2 linked regions of the Homo sapiens genome follow. The protein of the gene in region 1 interacts with the protein of each later gene in a pairwise test. Each region holds a gene or a part of one and is shown on either strand. Other genes may lie near its edges.

The links.
Region 2: the proteins of PFDN2 (region 1) and DBI interact in binary tests that used the Homo sapiens proteins (3 or more experiments, as listed by UniProt).

The regions. Positions count from the first base shown.
Region 1 is NC_000001.11:161,110,564-161,116,125, reverse strand, and holds part of PFDN2 (prefoldin subunit 2), read left to right. Parts: intron 1-5,513; exon of another isoform or gene 5,514-5,562. UniProt on the Homo sapiens protein: Binds specifically to cytosolic chaperonin (c-CPN) and transfers target proteins to it. Binds to nascent polypeptide chain and promotes folding in an environment in which there are many competing pathways for nonnative proteins.
Region 2 is NC_000002.12:119,369,977-119,374,074, forward strand, and holds the end of DBI (acyl-CoA-binding protein), read left to right. Parts: intron 1-763; coding exon 764-826; intron 827-2,268; coding exon 2,269-2,342; 3' UTR 2,343-2,567; downstream 2,568-4,098.

The sequences.
Region 1 (5,562 bases):
CCTCCTGAGTAGCTGGGACTATAGGCATAAGCCATTTGAATGGCTAATTAAAAATTGTTTTTTTGGTAGAGATGGGAGTCTCACTTTCTTGCTCTGGCTGGTCTTGAACTCCTGGCCTCAGGTGATCCACCTGCCTTGGTCTCCCAAAGTGTTGGGATTGCAGGTGTGAGCCACCTTGCCTGGCTCCCCCTAATAATTTTTAAGGCTACCATGGGCCAAGCACTCTGCTGGGTACAGCGATACAGATACTGTAGCTCCCCCTTATCTGAGGGGGACATATTCCAAGACCCCAGTAGATGCCTGAAACCTGGGATAGTATTGAACTCTATGTTTTTTCTCATACCTATGATAAAGTCTAATTTATATAATAGGTGCAGTAACTAATAGAACAGTTATGACAATGTAATAAAGGTTACATGAATGTGGTCTCTCTTTTTCAAAATATCTGATTGTACTGTACTCACCCTTCTTGTGATGATGTGAGATGATAAACTGCCTTCCTGATGAGGTAAGGTGAATGACAGCATTGTGATATAGCCTTAGGCCACTATTGATGATAAGTCAGAAGGAGAATCATCTGCTTTAGGTGATCTCAGATCATTGAGCCACGACAATGTTGAGCAGATGTTGATGACTAAAGGGCAGGTAGCATATACAGCATGGATAGGCTGGGCAAAAGGATGATTCACATCCTGAGCGGGATGGCTAGAGATTTCATCACGCTATTCACAACAGTGTGAAACTTAAAACTTATGAATTGTTGGCCAGGTGCCGTGGCTCACGCCTGTAATCCCAGCACTTTGGGATACCGAGGTGGGTGGATCATCTGAGGTCAGGAGTTCGAGACCAGCTTGGCCAACATGGCGAAACCCCATCGCTACTAAAAATAAAAAAATTAGCCAGGTGTGGTGGCGGGCACCTGTAATCCTAGCTACCCAAGAGGCTGAGGCAGGGAGAATCGCTTGAATCCGGGAGGCAGAGGTTGCAGTGAGCCAAGATTACGCCATTGCACTCCAGCCTGGGCAAAGAGCGAGACTCTTGTCTCAAAAAACAAACACACAAAAAGTATGAATTGTTTATTTCTGGAATTTTCCATTTATTTTCAGACATTGGATAACTCTGGATAATGAGAGACTATTGTACATGAAACAGACTTTGTCTTCAAATTGCTTTACTCAGACTCATTTGAGAAAAGACAAACCAAACAATAAAGATTTATAGTGTGCTGCACAATCCCTTCATTATGGCAGCAGAGGAGAGACCCCTAACTAATCACGAGGTTGTAGGATTGTGGGGGTAGGGGCTGGATAAGGGAAGCTGTGGTATAGTAGGGTGGCTAAGAGCATTCTTATGCACTAGGGTCAGACCTAAGTTTGAATTTCATTTCTACTATTTACTATTTATATATGACCTCCCATGAGTTACATCTTGGCCTCCCCCATCTGTAGAAACATAACAATACCTACCTCATCACTGAATTTAGAGTATTAGGCAAGACAATGCATGCGAAGTGTTTTGCACAGTGATTAGAATATAGTGTGTGTTTAGTAAATGCTAGTTAGCTTTTGTTTTCTAGAGGAGAAAAATCCTTCAGCTCAATTCTAAAGGATGAGAGAAGTTAGTCAAGCAAAGAAGGAAGTGGAAGATTTTCTAGGTAGAGGGAATAAATGTGTTCCAAAACACTAAGGCGTGAAACTGCCTGGCATGTTTGGGATGCAGGTGGGACTTAATGTTTGAGGTGGATTACAGAACTTGAATATGGAGAAAAGGGGGTAAAAGAGGAATATAAGATGTCTCTCAGGTTTCTGTCTTTGGTGGATAATGGTGCCATAAGGAATGTAGGAAGACAGACAATTTTGGGGGAAATGTAAGTTTATTTTAGGATTTTGAGTTTAGGTTTCTTGTGGGACACCCAGGTTAAACATTCAGTAGACACTTTGATTTTTAAATCTTGAGATACAGTAAGAAATCTGAGTTGGAGATACAGATTTGAGAATTGAGTTTATGGATGATAAAGCCGTGGTTATGGATAAAAATGATCACTTTCCATAGTTTGTACAGAAAGTGAAAAAAGAAGTAGAACAAGAGTGGAACCACTGTTTTAGGGGAGCTAAAGAGAACCCCTCAAACTTCCCTCAGGAAACTGAGGAAGTGTGATAAGTGAGTTTTGAGGCTGTTCCTTGATTAACATTCTCTTGCCTTTGTTTATTCTGGAGAGAACACTGGGTAAAACATTACAAGATTTATCACTGCTGCAAATTTGAGCCACATATGTCCCTTACAAACAAGATGGAAGCAAATAACACATTGTGTTAGACACTTGTTTTACCTTCTGTTACTGACTGAGACAGGGTCTCATTCTGTTGCCCAGGCTGGAGTGCAGTGGTGCGATCACGGCTCACTGCAGCCTCAACCTCCCAAGGCTCAGGTGATCCTTCTACCTCAGCCTCCCAAGTTACTGGGACTACATGCGTGTGCCACCCTGCCCAGCTAATTTTTGTATTTCTTGTAGAGATGGAGTTTTGCCATGTTGCCCAGGCTGGTCTTGAACTCTTGGGCTCAAGCAGTCCACCTGCCTTGGCTTCCCAAAGTGCTAGGATTACAGGCATGAGCTGAGCCACCGCTCAGGCCTACCTTCTGTTATTCAATTACTGCCATTTGAAGTAGGTTGTGTTGTCCTCCATTTATAGGTGAGGACATTTTAATTTCAGAGGCTTTAGTTAACTTGCCCAAGGTCAGTAACTGGAAGAGCAGGATTTTTAAATGAGGGACTTAAGAATCAGGTATTTTTTTCACTTATGCCATGATTATGTTAGAGGTATTTGAGCAGAACCCTGAAGGAGTGGATGGATTTGAACAGGTAGCAGTGGGAATAGAAAGTAGGGAATATGATAAGAGGAGAGTAGTTGAATAAGGCCATAGAGGTCTTTGAGTGCATGCCAAAGAATTTATGACTTTTTAACATAAGCAGTGAGGAAGTCACAGAAGGATATATGTTATATTATTAATTGTTTAACTCTTATATAAAATAATACATTTATTGTCGGAACTGCAGAAAACAAAGGAAAAAGTTCAAACCAGGAAATAAATTGCCCATAATCCAACTATCCAGAGATAACTTTTCTTGCCATTTAGGAGTATATCCTTTGAGAGATTTTTTCCCCCCTCCTTTGTCTTTTTGTGTATATATGTGTGGATGGAAGGGGGAGCTTTTTTTTTTTTTTACATATTTTATAAAATTAGGATTATACTACAGTATGTACTGGTTTGTAATCTGTTTTTTAAGCCTAATAGTATATGTTGAACATTTTTCTATGTCATCTAAGTGTTAGGAAGATTAAATTAGCAGTGTGTAGGGTAGGTTTGGGGAGTCTAAAAATAGGATCATTTAGAAGACTATTGCAGTAATTCAGATAAGAATGTAATGAACATCTGAACTAGGGTTATGTCAGTGAGCCTAAGAGAAATTGCTAAACTAAGTGCAATACATTTGGCAGTTCATGGGATTATGGTATGTTCAAAGATGAACCTGGGTATGGTGGCAAGTGCCTGTAGTCCCAGCTACTCAGGAAGCTGAGACAGGAGGATCACTTGAGTCTGGGAGTTTGAAGCTATAGTGTGCTATAATTGTGCCTGTGAATAACCACTTTTCACCAGTCTGAGCAGCATAGGGAGACCCCATCTTTAAAAACAAAACAAAAGATGAAACTAAGGTTTCCTACCAGGAGGCCTAGAGTGATGTCAGTAGCAGAAATAGAAGAGATAAGATCACTTCAGCTTTGAACAACATGAGTTTAAGATATCCATGGGACATTTAGGTGGAGATGATCTGTAATAATAGCAGCTACTATTTATTGAAAACTTGTTATATGATAGATATTGTCCTAAGTTCTTGATGTAATTACTTAATCCTTACAACATTCTGTGAGGCAGGTATTATCTGTATTTTATTGGTGAAGAAACATCAGAAAAGAAGTAATTAATACTTATGCATTCTGTGAGACAGGTATTAATCTGTATTTTATTGGTGAAGAAACATTCAGAAAAGAAGTAACTTGTCATGGTCTGACGTTAAGCCATTTCTGTCAGGCACAAAAAAGCTCCTTCCTCTAACTTGTAAATGTGGGACTAGAATTTCTGAAAAGGCCTGGTTTTGCAGGCAAGTAGAATAAAGGCAATTGCTGGAACTATAGAAGTAGCTAAGAATGCCACTTGAAATAGTATAGGTTACCCTGATTTGATTATATGAATATATCAAATTATCACAATACCATGAAAATATGATTATGAATCAATAAAAAATAATTTCAAAAATAATGTAGGTAATGAAGAAGTGCTATGAATAGAATCTTAGATCCTGTGGCCATTGTGGGAGTGAAAGAGGAAGAACTTTCAGAAAGGAGAAAGAAGGAGGCTTGAGATAGGAAGGAGAACTGAAGGGACCTGGAAACCAAAGGGGAGTCGAAGATCTACATTGTATCGGGCACTTGACCTATTATCTCAGTTAGTTCTCATTGTTACCCTGTAGCAGTGATTCTCAACTGGCATTATCTTTTCCTAGGAGACATCTGGCAGTGTCTGGAGACATTTTTGGTTGTCACAAATCAAAGGGGTTGCTACTGACTTTTAGTGGGTATAGTCCAGGGATTTGTTAAACATCCTATAATGCCTGAGACAGCCCTCCTAGCAAAGAATGATTTGGCCTAACATGTCAGTAGTGACAATGTTGAGAAACCCTGCCCTGTGGTATATTATATTAAGTCCATTTTATAAATGAGGAAACAAGGAAAGTTAAGTGACTCAGTCATATAGCAAGTAAATGGCAAAACTGGGATTTCAACCCAGGTCAGAATAAGAAGTTTGGGTTCTTTCCACTTTACTATGTTGCTACTTGGATCCCAGTACTTGGGGAGGCTGAGGCAGGAGGATCTCTTGAAGCCACGAGTTTGAAACCAGCCTGGGCAACATAGTAAGACCCCCATCTCGGGCTGGGCGCAGTGGCTAACACCTGTAATCCCAGCACTTTGGGAGGCTGAGGCGGGCGGATCACAAGGTCAGGAGATTGAGACCATCCTGGCTAACATGGTGAAACCACATCTCTACTAAAAAATACAAAAAGTTAGCCGGGCGCATTGGCGGGCGCCTGTAGTCCCACCTACTCGGGAGGCTGAGGCAGGAGAATTGCTTGAACCTGGGAGGTGCAGGTTGCAGTGAGCCGATATCATGCCACTGCACTCCAGCCTGGGCGACAGAGCGAGACTCCATCTCAAAAAAAAAAAAAAGTCTCTACAAAAAAAAAAAAAAAATTTCATGAAGAGAAGGGATGAGTACTATTATTTGATGGAGTAATAAGGTCAAAGAAGTTTTCTTTGACAGAGAGTTGAGTATGTTCTTCAGAAAAGGGGGCACTGAACTGAAAAGAAGGTAATTAGTGGAGCAGTATCCCAGATCATGCTTTTCCAGGTTCATCCAATCATAACTCTCTACCTCTTCTATTCTTCTATTGAAACCAGTAAGAGTAAATGTCATGTAAGAAGACCCTAGGACATTTTGGAGAGAAAG
Region 2 (4,098 bases), on another chromosome or scaffold:
TTCTAGGATCCTGATGATGACCACAAGGGCAGTTTGTTTCAGCTGTCCCTGGGAACACTTCCCTGAAAGCGCTCAGGGACATTTTCTCAGGCACAGTGCTCCAGGCTACGGACTCTGATTGTTCCCTGTGGCTTTGGGGCTGGGCATCGTAGTGAAATAGGACAACAGGGAGATGGTGAGTGTGTTTCCCAACTGCAGATGACAACAGGTCTATAAGCATAAAGTCATCATATAACTTAAAGAAACCTTACCCTCGGTGAAATCTCCCACAGATCAGCAAGAAATAGACTAACAATTCGGTAGAAAAATGGGGCTAGGATATAAACAGTTCATAGGAAAGGACACCTGATATCATTAATGATTAGGGAGAGAAATTGGGTAGCTAACAGCAGGGGTGAGAGAGAAACTTTATAGTATTTTCCTCTGTAGCTTTTGAATTTTAAGACATATGAATGGATTTTTTTTTTAATTGTAATTAAAGTATAATTTTTTTAAAAGAGAAATTTTGGAGTCATTTAACTTGTAAGACAAAGGCTATCTTGTAATAAGAATACTGTTCTTCCTATTTGCTCTAGATTTTAAGTTTGGATTGGCATACATTGGTTTTCTTAGGGCAGAACCCACTCTACTAGACCTATTTAACCCCATGACAGAGCCTAGAAGGAACAGGTGTAATAGAAGATGGCATTTATGGCAAGAAGGTTGATCAAGTTCTCCATTAGAATTTGAACCAGATCTAATGCCTTTTCTTCCCTTGTTTAAGAACGGCCCGGGATGTTGGACTTCACGGGCAAGGCCAAGTGGGATGCCTGGAATGAGCTGAAAGGTAATTGTTCTAATCAATTTCTCTCATTTGTGAAACCCAGTAGTGAAAGAGTCTTCATTATGAAGTGTAAGGGAAGAGGAGAGAAAACAAAGTCAATGGGGCACGTGTGGGAAACCAGCCTGACCTGTGCCAGAATGGGAAAAAACCGGGCCACCTACTTTTTCTCCTAACACCATTTATGCCTTTTCTAAAAGCACCATCTCTGAGCAGGAGCATCATCTAGAGAGGAGGGGCTGGGAACCAGGCCACTGAAAAATAGTTTGGGAAATGATGTAGTTGGCGTAGGCTTTGGATGTGTTCAGAATAAGGGGTGGTTTCCTGTCTGCAACTCCCTCTCCCCTACAAGGCCAGGCGGTGACCCCCTAACCCCAGTGGCCCTCCCCAGTTCCTTCCTAGCCAGAAGGATACATAAAAGAAGGGAATGAGCTAATGCATGGCCTGCCGCTGGCATCGTAGGCTCAGTGAATGGAGCCATTATATGCTAAGCACCAGCAGCCAAGAAGTATCCAAGCTCGTACTTAATCACGTGCCACCTGCAGCAGCAAGACCCAAGAGTTGGCACCAAAGCTCCTGGCAGCATTAGTGTTCCTGCTGGCTAGTTTCTGAATAAGCCCTCTGTCCTTCTGCGAATGAGAAACCCTTGAATTCAGAAAGGGCCACAATACAATAAACACACTCCTAGGATCTGCAAGTAACTGGGAAGGGAATGCCCATCTGCCTGCCCATTTTCATGGGACATTTCCATACCATCCTCAGGCCCCATGTACTCTCCAGTGCTTCAGAACAAGCTCTGAGTTCCAAAGGGTCTCTATCCTTCACCATAGAATCCAGGAAACTGGGTGTCACTGTCTCTGAGGGATACATTCAGTGTCCTTTCTACTGCAGCAAGAAGACAAAGATTTGTCTCATTCCCCTCCAAGAAGCAGCCACTTTTGGTCAGAGTTCCTGAAACTTTTCTCATAGCCTCTCTCTGGGGAGAAGAGGGTGCCTGGCTTTGCTTTTTCACTGCCAGCTTAACAGCTCTGGAAGATAGGAGCCCAAAACAGAGACACTGAAAAGGCCAAAGCCAATATCAGCCACGAGAGTTAGCAGGACCAGTAAAGTCACCACGATGACAGTTTCCTACCTGTCTGGAGGGTGGCACCTCTCTCCCAAGGCTCACAATGGCCATTCCCCCAGGACAGGTGGGGGACGCAGGTGTCCAGCAGATGGGCGACAGATCTTGGCCAGCCCCACCAGGCTTTCTGAGCACAGTTGCTTATGGAGCATTCACTTCGGGCCAGGTTCTGTGGATACTGTCTCCTGTAATTAGTAGAATCTCAACTTTATTAAGTGAGAAACTGAGCCTAGGAGAGTTACAGCAGAGCTGCCTGGGGCTCTGGAGGCTGCTTGTTTCCTACCATGCTACCTCCCTGACACATAATCCTGTCGATTCCTTACAGGGACTTCCAAGGAAGATGCCATGAAAGCTTACATCAACAAAGTAGAAGAGCTAAAGAAAAAATACGGGATATGAGAGACTGGATTTGGTTACTGTGCCATGTGTTTATCCTAAACTGAGACAATGCCTTGTTTTTTTCTAATACCGTGGATGGTGGGAATTCGGGAAAATAACCAGTTAAACCAGCTACTCAAGGCTGCTCACCATACGGCTCTAACAGATTAGGGGCTAAAACGATTACTGACTTTCCTTGAGTAGTTTTTATCTGAAATCAATTAAAAGTGTATTTGTTACTTTAAATAACTTTAGTGATCTGAGTTCTTGAGATCATTTACTCTGTCTGACCTCAGCCTTGCTTCCTTTTTCTAAAGACCTCTGGTAGTGCTTCAGCTGCATACCTGGTAGAGTATAAGGTGGGCAGTCCTGCCCTGCACCCTGGCCTAAGGTGTGCTGGCCCTTTGTGGGGAGGAGGAGGATGGTAGAAGTGACCTTTCTCTCTTCCTTCCCAGTTCAGCCACGCCGAGGAAGATGAGGCAGGCTGGCTGAGACCACAGTCTGCAAGTACTTCTGACGGGGACGTTCCTGCCCCAGGACCTGTGTGAGGCAGGGTTTACAGTGCTTGAGGTTTGTCTGAGGCCCAGCTGGTCCCTGATTCCAGAGTGCATGAACCAGAGTGGAAGCCCCCATCAAGAATGGAGTGTGAACCTGACAGGAGGCGTTCCCCAAGTCCCAGGGGAAGCCACAGACAGCTGTGTGGGCAACAGTCAGTGGGCAAGGGGTGTGTCCTCTGCAAGGAGCAGAACCCTGGGAGCTTGCAGAGAAGAAAGGCTGGAGCTTGACTCTGGAGGACGTAGGAGGTAGATTGTTGAAAAGTAATAATGAAGAAAAGGAGATAGCTCTCTAGACCCTTCTTGCCAGATGTTCCCTTCCAGCTCTTGGGTTTACAATCCCGCTGCCCTTTGCAGTGGGGATCATACCTCAATATTGTGTAACGGGGATTACTGTGCCCATTATGTGAGTGAGGAAATTAAGGCTCAGAGGTGATTTAACTGGATCCAAGCCCAGGGCTCACTGGCCAGGAGGGCCCTGTTTGTCCCCCTCCACCATGTTCCCTCTCATGGCCCCTGGCTGCCACTTAGTCTGCACCTCTGCTGTGTTGCAGTGAGTGACATCTGTCTCTCTGGGCTAGCATAAGGTGCTGGTGTGAAATCTGTCCCTTGGGCTGTGCAGCTCACTCCGGAAGAGTGGCTTAGACAAGGAGGTCCCACTTCCAAAGCTGGAGTGAGGCACAGATGAGAGAGACTTTTAGGCACCTCAGGTGACTAGGTCATAGCCGGTTTGGGAGATGCCCTCCCCGCTCACTAGAAAGTACTTGTACTGGTTTCTCAGAAAGCAGTGTTTGTGCAGTTCTGAGAGCACCAGCAGCCTGGGGCTGCACCTGCTCCTGTGGCTCCCACAGGAGTCCTTGTACCACCCAGGGCTGGCTCACAGGGTGTCACTTGGGGACAAATTATCAGGGAAACCCACCCCCAATATTTCAACATAGGCTGTTTCTATTTTCCATAAGTTTCAGCCGGCTGAGAAATAAAGAGAAAGAGTACAAAGAGAGGAATTTTACAGCTGGGCCGCCAGGGGTGACGTGACATATCAGTAGGACCGTGATGCCCACCTGAGCCTCAAACCAGCAAGTTTTTATTAAGGGTTTCAAAAGGGGAGGGGGTGTAAAACAGGGAGTAGGTACAAAGATCACATGCTTCAAAAGGCAAAAAGCAGAACTACTAATAAGGGTCTAACAAAGATGACATGCTTCTGAGGGAACAGGACAAAGGGA